3 linked regions of the Homo sapiens genome follow. The protein of the gene in region 2 purifies or fractionates together with the protein of the main gene of each other region. This does not show direct contact. Each region holds a gene or a part of one and is shown on either strand. Other genes may lie near its edges.

Region 1 (5,193 bases), on a different chromosome or scaffold from region 2:
CAACAGGTGGCCAGCAGTGGTCTACCTGTGGTTATTTTACTCCTGCTGCCATCTGCTCTTTTTATGGCCACTATCTGTTCCACCCTTAGAACTGAAGAAAGATATTGGTAGGGAGAGACTCTGCCTTCACTTCTGGCAGAAAAGGGATGTTCAGTTCATTCACCCCCCTGACATCAGAGCTGAACTTCAATGTGGCAGCTATTGGCCACGTGTGCCTCCTGAGTGACTGGAATGTGGCTGGTCTGAACTGCGATGTGCTAGAAAGGTAAAATACAGAGTTAGTTTCAAAGATTTAGTTTCAAATGTTTATATACATTATTAATAATTACACATTCCTCACACATTAAAATGATAATATTATGGACATATTGGGTTAAATTGTTACAATCAATTCAACCTGTTCCTTGTTTCTTTTTCAAGTTTGTCTACTAGAAAATTTAAGATTCACATGTGGCTCACATTTTATTTCAGAAGATTACCATCTTTTTAAAATCTGAGGCTGCCTCCTTTAGCCGGGAAGGTCATAAAATCTGAAATTTTAAAATAATTATTGTTACATTCTTTTCATTTTTGAATAGCCACTATATATATATAAATATAAATATATATAAAAATATATAAAAATAAAAATATAAATATATATAAAAACATAAATATATATAAATATAAATATGTATAATATATAAATATATAAAAATATATAAAAATATAAATATAAAAAATATATATAAATATAAATATATAAATATAAATATAAATATATATAAATATATACATATAAATATATAAATATAAATATATAAATATATAAATATAAATATATATAAATATATAAATATATATATATAAATATATAAATATATAAATATATATATATAAATATATAAATATTTATATATAAATATATATAAATATATAAATATATATAAATATATAAATATATATAAATATATATAAATATATAAATATATATAAGTATATAAATATAAATATATATAAATATATAAATATATATATAAATATATATAAATATATAAATATATATAATTATATAAATATAAATATATATAAATATATATAAATGTATATAAATACATAAATAAATATATAAATATATATAAATATATATATAAATAAATATATACAAATATATATAAATAAATATATATAAATATATATAAATAAATATATATAAATATATATAAATAAATATATAAATATATAAATATATAAATAAATACATATATAAATATATAAAATATATATAAATAAATATATAAAAATATATATAAATAAATATATATAAATAAATATATATATATATATATATATATATATTTTAGACAGAGTTGTGCTCTTGTTGCCCAGGCTGGAGTGCAATGGCACAATCTCGGCTCACCGCAACCTCCGCCTCCCAGGTTCAAGCGGTTCTCCTGCCTCAGCCTCCCGAGTACCTGGGATAACACACATGGGCCACCACAACCCGCTAATTTTATATTTTTTATAAAGACTGGGTTTCTCCATGTTGGTCAGGCTGGTCTCTAACTCCCGACCTCAGGTCATCTGCCCGCTTCAGCCTTCCAAAATGTTGGGATTACGGGCGTGAGCCACCGTGACCGGCCCCATATATTATTTATAAATGCATATGACCTTACACACAAGGTTAAATGCAAATAACCTCTGGGGTGGGCCTGGCTCAGCTCAGGGAGGAAGCCCTGTCAGAGAAGGATGCAGCCCAAGCTGTCACTCTTCTTTCAGCCCCGCATCTCATCACATCTTCCGTCAATCATGGCCTGAGGGGGCGGGGATTTAAATGTTATCCAATCAGAGACGCTAGGCAGGGAACCGTCCAATCAGGCACGCAGGTGAAGCGGACAGGGCGGCTTCCGGGTTTGGCGGGGCCTTTGTCCCTCGCTGTGGCCTGAGCTCCAGGTCTCGTCTTCAGCGCTCTGTGTCCTCTGCTCCTAGAGGTCCAGGCTCTGTGGCCCTGTGACCCGCAGGTATTGGGAGATCTACAGCTAAGACGCCAGGAACCCCTGGAAGCCTAGAAATGGTGAGAGTGCCGGGTCCGACATCCCCAGAGAGGGGAGGGGCTGGTTGTAATGGGTGGGAAGTGGCTGTGGCGGGACTCAGGCCTCCCGGCAGTCAGCTGCACAATCTGCGCCCCGAGTTCTTGCCCAGCTGGGCCTCAGTCCCCATCAGCCTTAAGATGGCGGCTGCGCTGACAGGCGGGCCCCAGCACGTCCCGTCTCTTCCTTGCGCAGTGACTGTGCCCTGGCCTGGAGCCCTCTCTGGGCAGCTCTGCATCCGCAGCGCCGCGTCTCTCCCAGACTGTGCAGGGACCACGGGAGGATCGTCACGGGAGAATCGTCACGGGAGAATCCTGACTTGGGGTGCGAGTTCATGAATGGGAAGAACTTTGGTCCTGGGTTCCTAGTTCCTCTTTTCTCCTATTAAAAATGTACAGACCGGGAGGGGTGGCTCACGTCTGTAATCCCAGTACTTTGGGAGGCCGAGGCGGGCGCATCACTAAGTCAGGAGAGTTCAAGACCAGCCTGGCCAGCATAGTGAAACCCCGTCTTTACTAAAAATACAAAAATTTGCCGGGCATGGTGGTACACGCCTGTAGTCCCAGCTACTTGGGAGACTGAGGCAGGAGAATCACTTGAACCTGGGAGGTGGAGATTGCAGTGAGCCGAGATAGCGCCACTGCACTACAGCCTGTGTAACAGAGCAAGACTCCGTCTCGGAAAAAAAAAATGTACAGAAGTCACCACAAAAATATTAAAGAAATTAATCAAAGAGTGATTAAAAAACTGTTGAGCACCCAGCTGTGGTTTGTAATTTGTTGTTCATGGCGGGGCTTGAAGGAAAGACTTTTATAAGGTGCATGATGAAGAAAGCCAAATTCAGTAATTGGTTAGGTACCGTTATGTAGTTTCTTAGTTTGTACAATAAAGGTGAAAATTTTCTGGTTGTGTAATCAGACCTTAATTGGCAGTATACAGTTGATTAAGCCTGAATTTTGTGTCTTTCAATGTAGTAATTTTCAAAACGATGCGCCTGAGTTAGATTTTTTTTTTTTTTTTTTTTTTTTTTTTTTGAGATGGAGTCTCGCTCTTGTCGCCCAGGCTGGAGTGCAGTGGCACAATCTCGGCTCACTACAACTTCTGCCGCTGCCTGTGTTCAAGCTTCTCCTGCCTCAGCCTTTTGAGTAGCTGGAATTACAAGCGCCTGCCACCCTGCCCAGCTAATTTTTGTACTTTTAGTAGAGACGGGGTTTCACCATGTTGGCCTGGCTGGCCTCGAACTCTTGACCTCAGGTGATCCGCCTGCCTTGGCCTCCCAAAATGCTGGGATTACAGGCGTGAGCTATCACGCCCAGCCACGTTAGATCTTTTTAAAAGTAGGAACCCAGGGTCTAGAGACACCTCAGTCTAATTGCCTGCCACTCAATTATTTTCACACTCCACGGGGAACTGATTTTCTGCTGCATTTTTCACCTGTGTCCCAAGCAGGGTCTTAAGTCTAACCCCCGTCCCCCATTTCTCCAGCCTCACTCTGGCTTGCAGTAAGATACTAAATTTCCAGTTCTTTCTGGCGTTCCCAAATGCCAACTTTTCCTACCTAATTCACATTATCACCTATTTGTCCTTTAGTGTACATTTTTTACACCGTATTTTAATTAGTTATTTTCTGACAAAGTATTAAATGGTGCTTTTAATAAGATTTGTTATCTGTTTGTAAATATTTCCCATGTGAAGAAAGCAAAGAATAATCCCCTGACACTGTGTTGTAAAAACTCTCTGTGCTTCTTCTCCTTGTATCTTCTCTGGGCACAGAGATCTTGTCTCAGGATGTTTTTGGGTCAGGGTTTTCCTTTGGAAACTTTATGGGGTGTTGTGTCCTCAGTCACCCTTCAGTTTTTTTCTGGTCCTGGGTTTCAGTATTGTCTGGGGATAAACCAAGATATCCGCCATGGTTATGTCAGTTAGAGTGTCTAGTGGATATCAGCTTCTGGGTTATTTTCTCCCATAGGAGAACCTGAAGTCTGGAGTGTATCCTCTCAAGGAAGCAAGTGGATGCCCTGGGGCTGACAGGAATCTTCTGGTGTACTCTTTTTATGAAAAGGTAACCCCTTGAGATGTTAAAATTGTCTTCACCCAACCCAGCTTTCATTTCTTGGAGACACATTGCTGGTCAACCAATCAGACTGTGGCATTGAGGGGAAAACAAATAATTTTTGCCTCTGGATTGTCTAAGGGGGCAGAAAAATAGTGAAATAACTATAGTGAAAGTAAAATAGTGGAAAAAAGTGGAACATTTGTGACAGAAAAAATAGTATCCCAAAAGACAAAAAGAAAAAGAAAAACACTGACCCCAGTGAGATGGCGTAAGAACTTGCAAAGTTAAATGCCCGTGGGACAGTCACTGGGGCATAGTGTGGTATCTCCTGAGTGGGTGGTTCTTGAGCACATAAGTGAGCAGGAGTGGGTGGAAGACTGTTTGAAGTGATTGAATGGCCTGACTTGAAACATGAGTCAGACACATCTGTTTTTTCATCAGCACTGCCACTCCCTGGGTTTGTCACCTTGAAAAGATTTGTTCATTTATTTTAACCTCAGTTTTTTAGCTGTAAATTCTATTAGTAGGGCTTGAAAGGTAGGAAAATATTTACCAAAGGCATAAAAGTGGTGGGTTTAAGAAAAAAAATAGTATCTAATAATATATTCCATTCATTAAAAATTCTCTATTCCCTTTTTACCCCCAGGGTGAGTTTAGGAATTTTCTCAGGTGTGTTTTTTATGGCTGGGTGATTTCAAACAGAATTCTAAGGCTCAGCTTTTAGAATGCTACCAAGGAAATGAGTAGGGAAAATCTCTGTTCCATTTTTTTGTAGAAAATAAATACATTTCTACAAGAAAATGTGGTAGATAATTGGTGAGTTACATACATTCATGAAAACATGAGTTTCTCTCTCTGCAGGGTAAATTTGTGACAGTAAACATCTCTGTTCAAATCCTGTTATCTTGATTTCTGAGTTTCATGCTAAATTTTATGAGATGAAACTTGGTACCACCTAGAAGTTTTCCCATATGACTAACTGTTTACTAAATGATTCTTAATGGAATTCATAAAATAATGCATACATTATGTGAAAGAAATAGATATTTTGCTTTTTTTATTGAGGTA
Region 2 (5,405 bases):
TAATTAGTAGTTCAGATAAAAAACTCACAAAGTTCTCCTGAAACAGAAACTCTTAACAGTGAATCCCTAACAATATTTATCTTCCCAATCTCTTCTGCCCCTTCCCCAATCTGCTTAAACTCCTAGTTCTTTTCCTACCCCCACAATTCTCAAACACAGCCCTGAAGATCAAACTCTAATCCAGAAGATGGAAGCTCAGCACATACAAACAAATTTGGGGCCAGGCATGGTGGCTCACACCTGTAATCCCTGTGCTTTGGGAGGCTGAGGCAGGAGGATCACTTTAGTCCAGGAGTTCAAGACCAGCCTGGGCAACAATAGTGAGATCTCATCTCTACCAAAAATTCAAAAATTAGTCAGGCATGGTGGTGTGTGCCTGTAGTCCCAGCTACTCGAGAGGCTGAGGCAAGAGGATCGCTCGAAGTTACAGTGAGCCATGATCATGTCACTCTAGCCCTATCTAACAACCACCACCACCAAATTTTGGACTTTAAAGGGCTACCACTGAGAAACAGTATCTCTGTAGAAACACTCACTGTTTGTTATTGTTTGTTTTTATTTGGTAGAGATGGAGTCTGTGCTATGTTGCCCAAGCTGGTGTTGAACTCCCGGCCTCAAGTTATCCTCCTGTCTCGGCCTCCCAAAGTGCTGGGATTATAGGTGTAAGCCATCCCAACCCCAGACTCCACCCCTACTGCCACCCGTTGTTTTTTTAAAAGATGGTAGAAATTAAAGCTTCATCTTAGCTTTCGTGACAAGCAAGAGAAAAAAAAAAAAAGAAAATTAAAGCTTCAGTTAGGTCAACCGATTTAACAAGAAAAAATTCTTGACTTGGCATTTTGGCCACTGAGAAAGTCTCACTTTTTTCCTTGCATATTTCCTTGCATATCGTATTTATTGTACATAAATCTTGGCTTCCATCTTCAGAGAGCAAAGTCTTTGGTCTAAAAACTGAGAAAATACTGCTCGATCCTTGCGGTGGGTAGTGATTAGAAGAGGGCAGGACGCGGGTTCCTAGGGTGCAAGTAACGTTCTGTTAATTGATCTGGGTGTTCACTTGGTGAAAAGTCTGGAAGCTGTACCTGCGACATCGCACTTTCCTAATGTACGTTATATTTCAATAAAAGATTTTTTTAAATTGGACTGCTTGAAAGTTATTTTTAAAAATTACATGCTTTTGAGACTTGAGCAGCTGCAAAGGCTCTGTTTTCTATTTTGATCATTCTGTTTCTCGAGATGACCACATCTTTCAGAGGAAATGAGTCAAAGCCACTCTGTCTTGCTTTTCCAGCTGAGCATGTTCTGTTTCAATGAAGTAATGAATGAACTTGGCCGCACCACCCCCAAGCCTACAACAGCAAACAGAGGGCCCTCGGCCAATCAGCAGGCACTCCGGGTTTTCAAGTTGAGTTCAAACAGGACCACCGGAGGCCAATCAGAGTGCGCGGCCCCGCCCCGAACGCCCGGCCGTGACCAACCACGAGGCCGGATGAGCCAAAACACAGCGGCCGGCCAATGCTGGGGAGCCCCACGGCGCCGAGCTCCGCCAATGGGCGCGGCCGGGCGAAAAGAGAAACAGTGAGGGCCCCACAGGCCGCAGGATTCGAATCGAACGTCCTTACGGGAGCCGGGCGCTGGCGGAGCGGCGCCCCGGCCAATCAGCGGCAGTCCCCGAACGTTGGGCCGGCCCAGCCCCGCCCCGCGCTGTTGTTTGTGGTGTCGGCCGGGCCGCGGGAGTCGAACCACAACATTCGCCGGGCGGGCGGCGGCGGAGCGGGCGGCGGAGCGGCGGCAGCAGCGGTGAGCGCGAGCCCCGGAGCCCCGGGCGGCCGGCCTCCCGCGCCCGCGCAGCCCCGCGTCTGCGTCCGGCCGGAGACGCCGGGCCCCGCGCCGCGCCGCGCCATGTCGGTGAACATGGACGAGCTGCGGCACCAGGTCATGATCAACCAGTTCGTGCTGGCCGCGGGCTGCGCGGCCGACCAGGCGAAGCAGTTGCTGCAGGCGGCCCACTGGCAGTTCGAGGTGCGAGCCTGGCCGCCGCGGGGCCGGGCCGCGGGGGTCGGGGACGCCGGGCGGCGGCGGGGGCGGGGAGCGCTCCTGTTGTCGGCCCGGAAGGCGATCGGCGCCCGCGAGCGGGTCTTACGCGGGACCGGGGCCGGGACCGGCTCCCCTCTGCACGTGGGGCAGCCGAGGGTCGGGGGCCGCGGGCCGGGCGCGGAGGCGGGGAGAGCCGGTGGGGGGCCCAGCCGCTGCGTTTCCTGACTCCGCCTGGCCCGCCGTGTCACTGCCCTGTTTGTCCGCAGACCGCGCTGAGCACGTTCTTCCAAGAAACCAACATTCCCAACAGCCACCACCACCACCAGATGGTAAGCGGCGGCGGGCAGGGGCGCGGGCCGGGGCCGCTGTCAGCGCGGCGGTGACAGCCATGTTGCCGGGGAGCGCCGCGCCGCGAATGTAAACAAAGAGCCAAAATGTCTTCCAGGAAAGAGCGGCTCCCGGGCCGGCGCTGGCGCCTCCAACTTTGAGGCCCGCCTCCCGGGCTGCTGCTGCTTGGCCTCGGGACTGGTGCCCGGCACTGGTCCCTGGGGGGAAGCGGCGCCAAAGTTGGGGGGAGGGGGAGAGGGCCGGGGGCCTGGCGAGGGGCTCAGGAGCTGGGGGACCCCAGAGCCAGGGGATGGGGAGGGGGAGAGGGTGATGCCCGGACGTCTGGGGCACTGGGAAGCCCGCGCGAAGGGCCCAGGGAGGGCGATGGGGGTGCTTGTGTTTATGGGGACCCCCTCGTGCTGTTGAGTGGTTTCCCCCCTCCCCCTCCACACACACACACACCCAGCGCTACAGGGAACAGGAAAGGCATGAATCCACCCTGGCTCAGGAAGCCGGGCTCTACCCACAAAGATCTGTTCAACCTTCCGAAGCCCAAGGGGACTGGGAAGTTGGAAGGACATACATCCCCCAAGCCAGGAGGACACACAGATTTTGACCCAAGATAAGGCCAGGAATGTGTCTTTAATCTCTGTGTTGAGCTCCACCAGCCCAGCACACAGAGAAGTGGTCCGGGGTCTGGATTTGCTTTCTTTTTCATTCTAGCCCAGGCCCAAGCTTTTGCCCTCCTGGCCATGGGGTACTCTGCTTTCTTGAGGCCCAGGACATCTCTCCTGTACCCTACCCCCCTAGTTACCTATTAGCCCTGCTGGGGGAGGAGGGGCAGGGCTCAGCGATAGGGATCTTAAAACATTGTTCCCCAGGAGAGCTGTTGTGGACTCTAGGTGCATTTTTGGGATTTTTAACACTTGGTGCCCTTGCCTTTGGCTCTCTGTTTTCATCTAGTCACAGAGGACAAGTAGAGGGGTCTGTCTTGACCTTGTTAGCTAGTTTTTCTCAGAATGGCTGATGCTGTATATAAATCAAGCCAAAATGGCATTTGAGTATGATGGGAGCATGGTGCTGGCCACAGGGCTCTTAGAAACCCAAGAGGGTTTCATCTCCAGGGGACACCGTCCCCTGCACTTGACCAGGAGAAATGGCCAGCACCCGCCTATGCTTGAGTCTCGAAGCTTCCTGCCATCTCCTGTCACCGGATCCTTGAGATTTCCTTCCACCAGCTGTGGCCATCCCAAAAAACTCAGAACTTCCAGATACTACAGCCATTCTGAGGGGCTGAGAACAGGGAGGCTCCCCAGGAAGAGCTGGTCTGGCATCCTGTTTAGTTCCTATTGCCCCTCCTCTGCAAATCCCAAGGAGATGCTAAGTCTCTTTTGAAGCTTCCCTCAAGGAAGGCAGCAGGTTTTGTAACACACATAACCAGTGTGTCCATCAGTGCCCAAGTCTGAGTGCCTTAGCAGCACAGTGGAGGACACCATCCCTGCTCTCAAAAAGTTCATGGTTTCTTTTTTTTTTTTTTTTTTTTTCTAATTTTATTTTTGAGAAAGGCCAGGGCAGGGGGAGTCTCTATGTGGCCCAAGCTGGTCTTGAACTCCTGGCCTCAAGCTATCCTTCCGCCTCAGCCTCCCGAAGTGCTGGGATTATAGGTGTGAGCCACTGCACCCAGCTGGCAATTTCTTTTCTTTTTTTTTTTTTTTGAGACAGAGTTTCACTCTTATTGCCTAGGCGGAGTGCAATGGTGTGATCTCGGCTCACCGCAACCTTCACCTCCTGGGTTCAAACGATTCTCCTGCCTCATGGGATTACAGGCACGTGCCACCTGTAATCCCACACCTGGCTAATTTTGTATTTTTAGTAGAGACGGGGTTTCTCCATGTTGATCAGGCTGGTCTCGAACTCCCAACCTCAGGTGGTCCGCCTGCCTCGGCCTCCCAAAGTTCAGGGATTACAGGCGTGAGCCACTGCACCCGGCCTGGCAATTTATTTTGGACAAAGTAAGTCAAAGGAAAAAGATCAAAAAACGAAACACTAGAGACCAGTAACAGCAAAATGGCAAAACCAGAAGTCATGAGTAACTGATAAATGGTTGTCCCGTACATTACTGTAGATTCCCATAGTTGGAAGCTTCCCAGTTGATAAGGAGGGCTTCCCAGTTGGAAGTGGAGAAAGGCACTACAGACTTGAAGTGGGAGGACAAAGGTACAGGGGACAATGGGTTTTCTTGAGAACTGGCCGAGAGGGCATATCTGGTTCAAAACCCTCATTTTACAAAAGCAGAGAGAAGCTCCAGAGAGGTTCAGGAACTTGCCCAAGCTTACACAGGCAGGCCACCACAGGCCTGCCAGCCATCATCCCTGCTGTTCTCTGGCGGCTGTTTGAGGAGACAGGCCTCGCTGGCTGGCGGGGAACTGGGGAAGTCGGTCACGATGCTGTGATGCAATTGGCCTCCACCCCCACCCTTCATTCATTGTTTCCTGCTGCCGAGAAGTCATCCCCAGAGGGTGGGGGGGGGGCAGGGAGTAGTGGAGGGAGGAGGGGAAAGGTCTGGGTGGGGCCAGGCCTCTGCATTGGGTCCTTTGGCCTCCCCCTGAGGACCCCTAGAAAGGCAAGGGTCAGAGCTCCCTTGGTGCCCTGGGTGCTGACATGGTGTGGGGCTCAATGGACAGGGTGTGCTAGTGTCCCCATTCCATGTATGTTACACACCCCCTACACAACCTCCGGTTTCTAGCTGTGAAAGCTCCCTCTGTTTTTTTTTTTTTTTTTTTTGAGACGGAGTTTTGCTCTGCCACCTAGGCTGGAGTGCAGTGACGTGATCTCAGCTCACTACAACCTCCACCTCCCGGGTTCAAGTGATTCTCCGGCCTCAACCTCCCAAGTAGCTGGGATTATAGACGCCCATCACCACACCCAGCTAATTTTTGTATTTTTTAATAGAGACAGGGTTTCACCATGTTGGTCAGGCTGGTCTCGAACTCCTAACCTCAGGTGATCCACCCGCCTCGGCCTCCCAAAGTGCTGGGATT
Region 3 (4,762 bases), on a different chromosome or scaffold from region 2:
TTACTATCTGTGCACCCTTGGGCAAGTTATTTAACCTTTTTGTGCTTTTAGTTTTCTTTGCTGTAAAAGTAGAATAATACATATTTCCCTAGGGCTGTTAGGAAGATTAAATAAGTTAGAAGTGTTGCTGTTAATTTTTCTATTGAAGATAGGCATTCATAATTTCAAATATTCATTACAGTAAGGATGATAAAGAACTGATGAGAAATCCTATGTGATAGTAGATCGAGAAAGCAAAAGGAGGAAAGAAGCCTGTTTTCTTAATAAATAGATATTTGATCTATTTCAGTGCTTTTCATACACTTCTATAATAAAGTGCCATTTCTTGCCTTAGGTGAAAAACCATACAAATGTGAATTTTGTGAATATGCTGCAGCCCAGAAGACATCTCTGAGGTATCACTTGGAGAGACATCACAAGGAAAAACAAACCGATGTTGCTGCTGAAGTCAAGAACGATGGTAAAAATCAGGACACTGAAGATGCACTATTAACCGCTGACAGTGCGCAAACCAAAAATTTGAAAAGATTTTTTGATGGTGCCAAAGATGTTACAGGCAGTCCACCTGCAAAGCAGCTTAAGGAGATGCCTTCTGTTTTTCAGAATGTTCTGGGCAGCGCTGTCCTCTCACCAGCACACAAAGATACTCAGGATTTCCATAAAAATGCAGCTGATGACAGTGCTGATAAAGTGAATAAAAACCCTACCCCTGCTTACCTGGACCTGTTAAAAAAGAGATCAGCAGTTGAAACTCAGGCAAATAACCTCATCTGTAGAACCAAGGCGGATGTTACTCCTCCTCCGGATGGCAGTACCACCCATAACCTTGAAGTTAGCCCCAAAGAGAAGCAAACGGAGACCGCAGCTGACTGCAGATACAGGCCAAGTGTGGATTGTCACGAAAAACCTTTAAATTTATCCGTGGGGGCTCTTCACAATTGCCCGGCAATTTCTTTGAGTAAAAGTTTGATTCCAAGTATCACCTGTCCATTTTGTACCTTCAAGACATTTTATCCAGAAGTTTTAATGATGCACCAGAGACTGGAGCATAAATACAATCCTGACGTTCATAAAAACTGTCGAAACAAGTCCTTGCTTAGAAGTCGACGTACCGGATGCCCGCCAGCGTTGCTGGGAAAAGATGTGCCTCCCCTCTCTAGTTTCTGTAAACCCAAGCCCAAGTCTGCTTTCCCGGCGCAGTCCAAATCCCTGCCATCTGCGAAGGGGAAGCAGAGCCCTCCTGGGCCAGGCAAGGCCCCTCTGACTTCAGGGATAGACTCTAGCACTTTAGCCCCAAGTAACCTGAAGTCCCACAGACCACAGCAGAATGTGGGGGTCCAAGGGGCCGCCACCAGGCAACAGCAATCTGAGATGTTTCCTAAAACCAGTGTTTCCCCTGCACCGGATAAGACAAAAAGACCCGAGACAAAATTGAAACCTCTTCCAGTAGCTCCTTCTCAGCCCACCCTCGGCAGCAGTAACATCAATGGTTCCATCGACTACCCCGCCAAGAACGACAGCCCGTGGGCACCTCCGGGAAGAGACTATTTCTGTAATCGGAGTGCCAGCAATACTGCAGCAGAATTTGGTGAGCCCCTTCCAAAAAGACTGAAGTCCAGCGTGGTTGCCCTTGACGTTGACCAGCCCGGGGCCAATTACAGAAGAGGCTATGACCTTCCCAAGTACCATATGGTCAGAGGCATCACATCACTGTTACCGCAGGACTGTGTGTATCCGTCGCAGGCGCTGCCTCCCAAACCAAGGTTCCTGAGCTCCAGCGAGGTCGATTCTCCAAATGTGCTGACTGTTCAGAAGCCCTATGGTGGCTCCGGGCCACTTTACACTTGTGTGCCTGCTGGTAGTCCAGCATCCAGCTCGACGTTAGAAGGTATTGCATGAGGGGCGTCGTGTTTAAATGGCTGCCTACAGTGATTAATAGCTAATCCAGGCATTCTCAGTGGAGATGGTACCACTCCCAAGGGTGGGGGGTAGGCAGCCAGAAGTTCTTGGGGGTCACAGAGAGAAGCATTCTTAGATACGGCAGTGGTTTGTGGTCCTCCAAGGCTTACTTAACTCTGTGGGTTTAACTCTTAACCCTGTGTATTTTATTCTTTTGATTTGTTTAGTCTTACTTTATTTTTAGAGAAAGGGTCTTGCTCCGTCATCTAGATTGGAGTGCAGCGGTGTAATCATAGCTTACTGTAGTCTTGAATTCCTGAGTTCAAGAGATCCTTCTGCCTCAGCTTCCCAGGTAGCTGAGACTATATGTGCTGCTACCATGCACAGCTGATTTTTAAATTTTTTTTGTAGAGATGGAGTTGCCCAGGCTGGTCTTGAACTCCTGGCCTGAGGTGATCCTCCTGCGTTGACCTCCCAAGTATCTTAGACTACAGATGCACTCCACCACGCTTGGCTAACTTAAATTTATTTTTTTGTAGAGACAGGGATTTGCTTTGTTGCCCGGGCTGGTCTGAAACCCCTGGCCTCAAGTGATCCTCCTGCCTCGGCCTCCCAGAATGCCAGCATTACAGGCGCGAGCCACCATACCCAGCCTTATTCTTGAGTAATTTTTCTTGTCAATTTTATTTTTCTGTTGTGAGAGTGATCATGGAAACAGTGGGTGAGAACACTGGTCTGTCTAGTCCATTCTTGTCTTGCTGTTGAAATTCCAGATGCAGCCAGTTGAGGCCCCAGCTTGCCTCACTTCATCACAGCCCTTTTTCTTCCTTTGCACATGTATGGTGTGCTCAGTAGTCAGTGCCAATCCACCTGGAGTTGCGGGGGTTTTTTTTTTCTTTCTTTCTTTTTTTTTTTTTTTTTGAGACGGAGTTTTGCTCTTGTTGCCCAGCCTGAGTGCAGTGGCACGATCTCGGCTCACTGAAACCTCCTTCTCCTGGGTTCAAGCAATTCTCCAGCCTCAGCCTCCTGAGTAGCTGGGGTAATAGGCACGTGCCACCACGCCCGGCTAATTCTTGTATTTTTAGTAGAGACAGGGTTTCAGCATGTTGGCCAGGCTGGTCTTGAACTCCTGACCTCAGGTGATGCACTGGCCTCGGCCTCCCAAAGTACTGGGATTACAGGTGTGAGCCACCGCGCCCAGCCTAGGGGTTCTTCCTCACGCATTTTACCATTCCCTGCTGGCCTGTAAACTTCTTAAGAGCAGAAACCATGTTTTACATGTACAGCATCAAGTCACATGCTTCCCACACGGGGCAGAATAGGGGGCGCCCAGTAAGGACCACACGTGGACCCTTGACCTGGCAAGAGCAGAAAGCAAAAGAACTTCCGATTAAAGAGTCTTGTGAACCGTTTTGCTGTTAAATGTTGTCAGCCCTCCATATCCTTGGGTTCTGCCTCAGTGGATTCAACCAACTGCGGGACTAAAATATTTGGGGGAAAAATGGATGGTCGCATCTGTACTGAACATCTGCAGTTTTCTTTTCCTTGTCGTAATTCCCTAGATAATACAGTATAACAACTATTTACATAGCATTTACTTCATATTAGGTATTATAAATAACGAAGAGATGATTTTTTTTTTTTTTGAGATGGAGTCTTGCTCTGTTGCCCAGGCTGGAGTGCAATGGTGTGATCTCAGCTCACTGCAATCTCTGCCTCCCAGGTCCAAGCAGTTCTCCTACCTCAGCCTCCCGAGTAGTTTGGATGCAGGCACCCACCGCCACGCCAGCCTAATTTTTGTATTTTTAGTAGAGACGGCATTTCGCCATGTTGGTCAGGCTGGTCTCGAACTCCTGACCTTAGGTGATCCTCCTGTCTTGGCCTCACAAAGCGCTGGGATTACAAGCATGAGCCACCATGCCCAGCAGTGTAGAGATGATTTAAAGTATATGGGAGGTGCTGGATGTGGTGGCTCACATCTGTAATCCCAGTACTTTGGGAGGCTGAAGCGGGCAGCTCGATTGAGGCCAGGAGTTGGAGACCAGACTGGTCAACATGGTGAAACCCCGTCTCTACTAAAAATACAAAAATTGGCTGGGTGTGTTGGTTTGCACCTGTAATCCGAACTGTTTGGGAGGCTTAGGCATGAGAATCGCTTGAACCGGGGATGCGCAGATTGCAGTGAGTAAGTCTAGATTGCACTGTTGCACTCCAGCCTGGGCTAAAGAGTGAGACTCTGTCTCAAATAAATAAATAAATAATAAGTAAGTAAAGTATATGGGAGGATGTGAATAGGTTACGCTACAATACTGCAAATTAATAGTACTACAAGGCCAGTTGCGGTGGCTCACGCCTGTAATCCCAGGACTTTGGGAAACAGCCTGACCAACAATGGAGAAACCTCGTCTCTGCTAAAAATACAAAATTAGCTGGGTGTGGTAGCGCATGCCTGTAATCCCAGCTACTCCAGAGGCTGAGGCAAGAGAATCACTTGAACCTTGGGAGGTGGAGGTTGCGGTGAGCTGAGATTGTGCCATTGCACTCCAGCCTGGGCGACAGAGCGAGACTCCATCTCAAAAAAAAAAAAAAATAGTACTACAGATACTATGAATACTGCAGATACGACACTGTTTTATATTAGGGACCTGAGCATCCATGGATTTTGGTATCTGTTGGCTGGGGTGGTGGGGGCGGGTGGTCCTGGAGCCAGTGCCCTCTGGATACTGAGGGACAACTGTATTAATTTAAAACCAACCTTATTTCCCCCATAGGTAGATTGTTAACCTCATAGATGACTGGGGTTTTCCCCATAGAAATGTGTCCTGGTGGTGTCACTTCGTACAGGTGTCTGGCACATACCTGT

The links. Proteins that work in one complex are often made in the same cells at the same time.
Region 1: the proteins of UBALD2 (region 2) and ZNF430 purify together in Homo sapiens (affinity purification with mass spectrometry; one large-scale study listed by BioGRID and IntAct). This does not show direct contact.
Region 3: the proteins of UBALD2 (region 2) and ZNF217 purify together in Homo sapiens (affinity purification with mass spectrometry; one large-scale study listed by BioGRID and IntAct). This does not show direct contact.

The regions. Positions count from the first base shown.
Region 1 is NC_000019.10:21,018,751-21,023,943, forward strand, and holds the start of ZNF430 (zinc finger protein 430), read left to right. Parts: upstream 1-1,906; 5' UTR 1,907-2,050; coding exon 2,051-2,053; intron 2,054-4,038; coding exon 4,039-4,131; intron 4,132-5,193. UniProt on the Homo sapiens protein: May be involved in transcriptional regulation.
Region 2 is NC_000017.11:76,263,604-76,269,008, forward strand, and holds the start of UBALD2 (UBA-like domain-containing protein 2), read left to right. Parts: upstream 1-1,744; 5' UTR 1,745-1,902; coding exon 1,903-2,022; intron 2,023-2,303; coding exon 2,304-2,366; intron 2,367-5,405.
Region 3 is NC_000020.11:53,572,853-53,577,614, reverse strand, and holds part of ZNF217 (zinc finger protein 217), read left to right. Parts: intron 1-334; coding exon 335-1,888; intron 1,889-2,306; exon of another isoform or gene 2,307-3,257; intron 3,258-4,758; exon of another isoform or gene 4,759-4,762.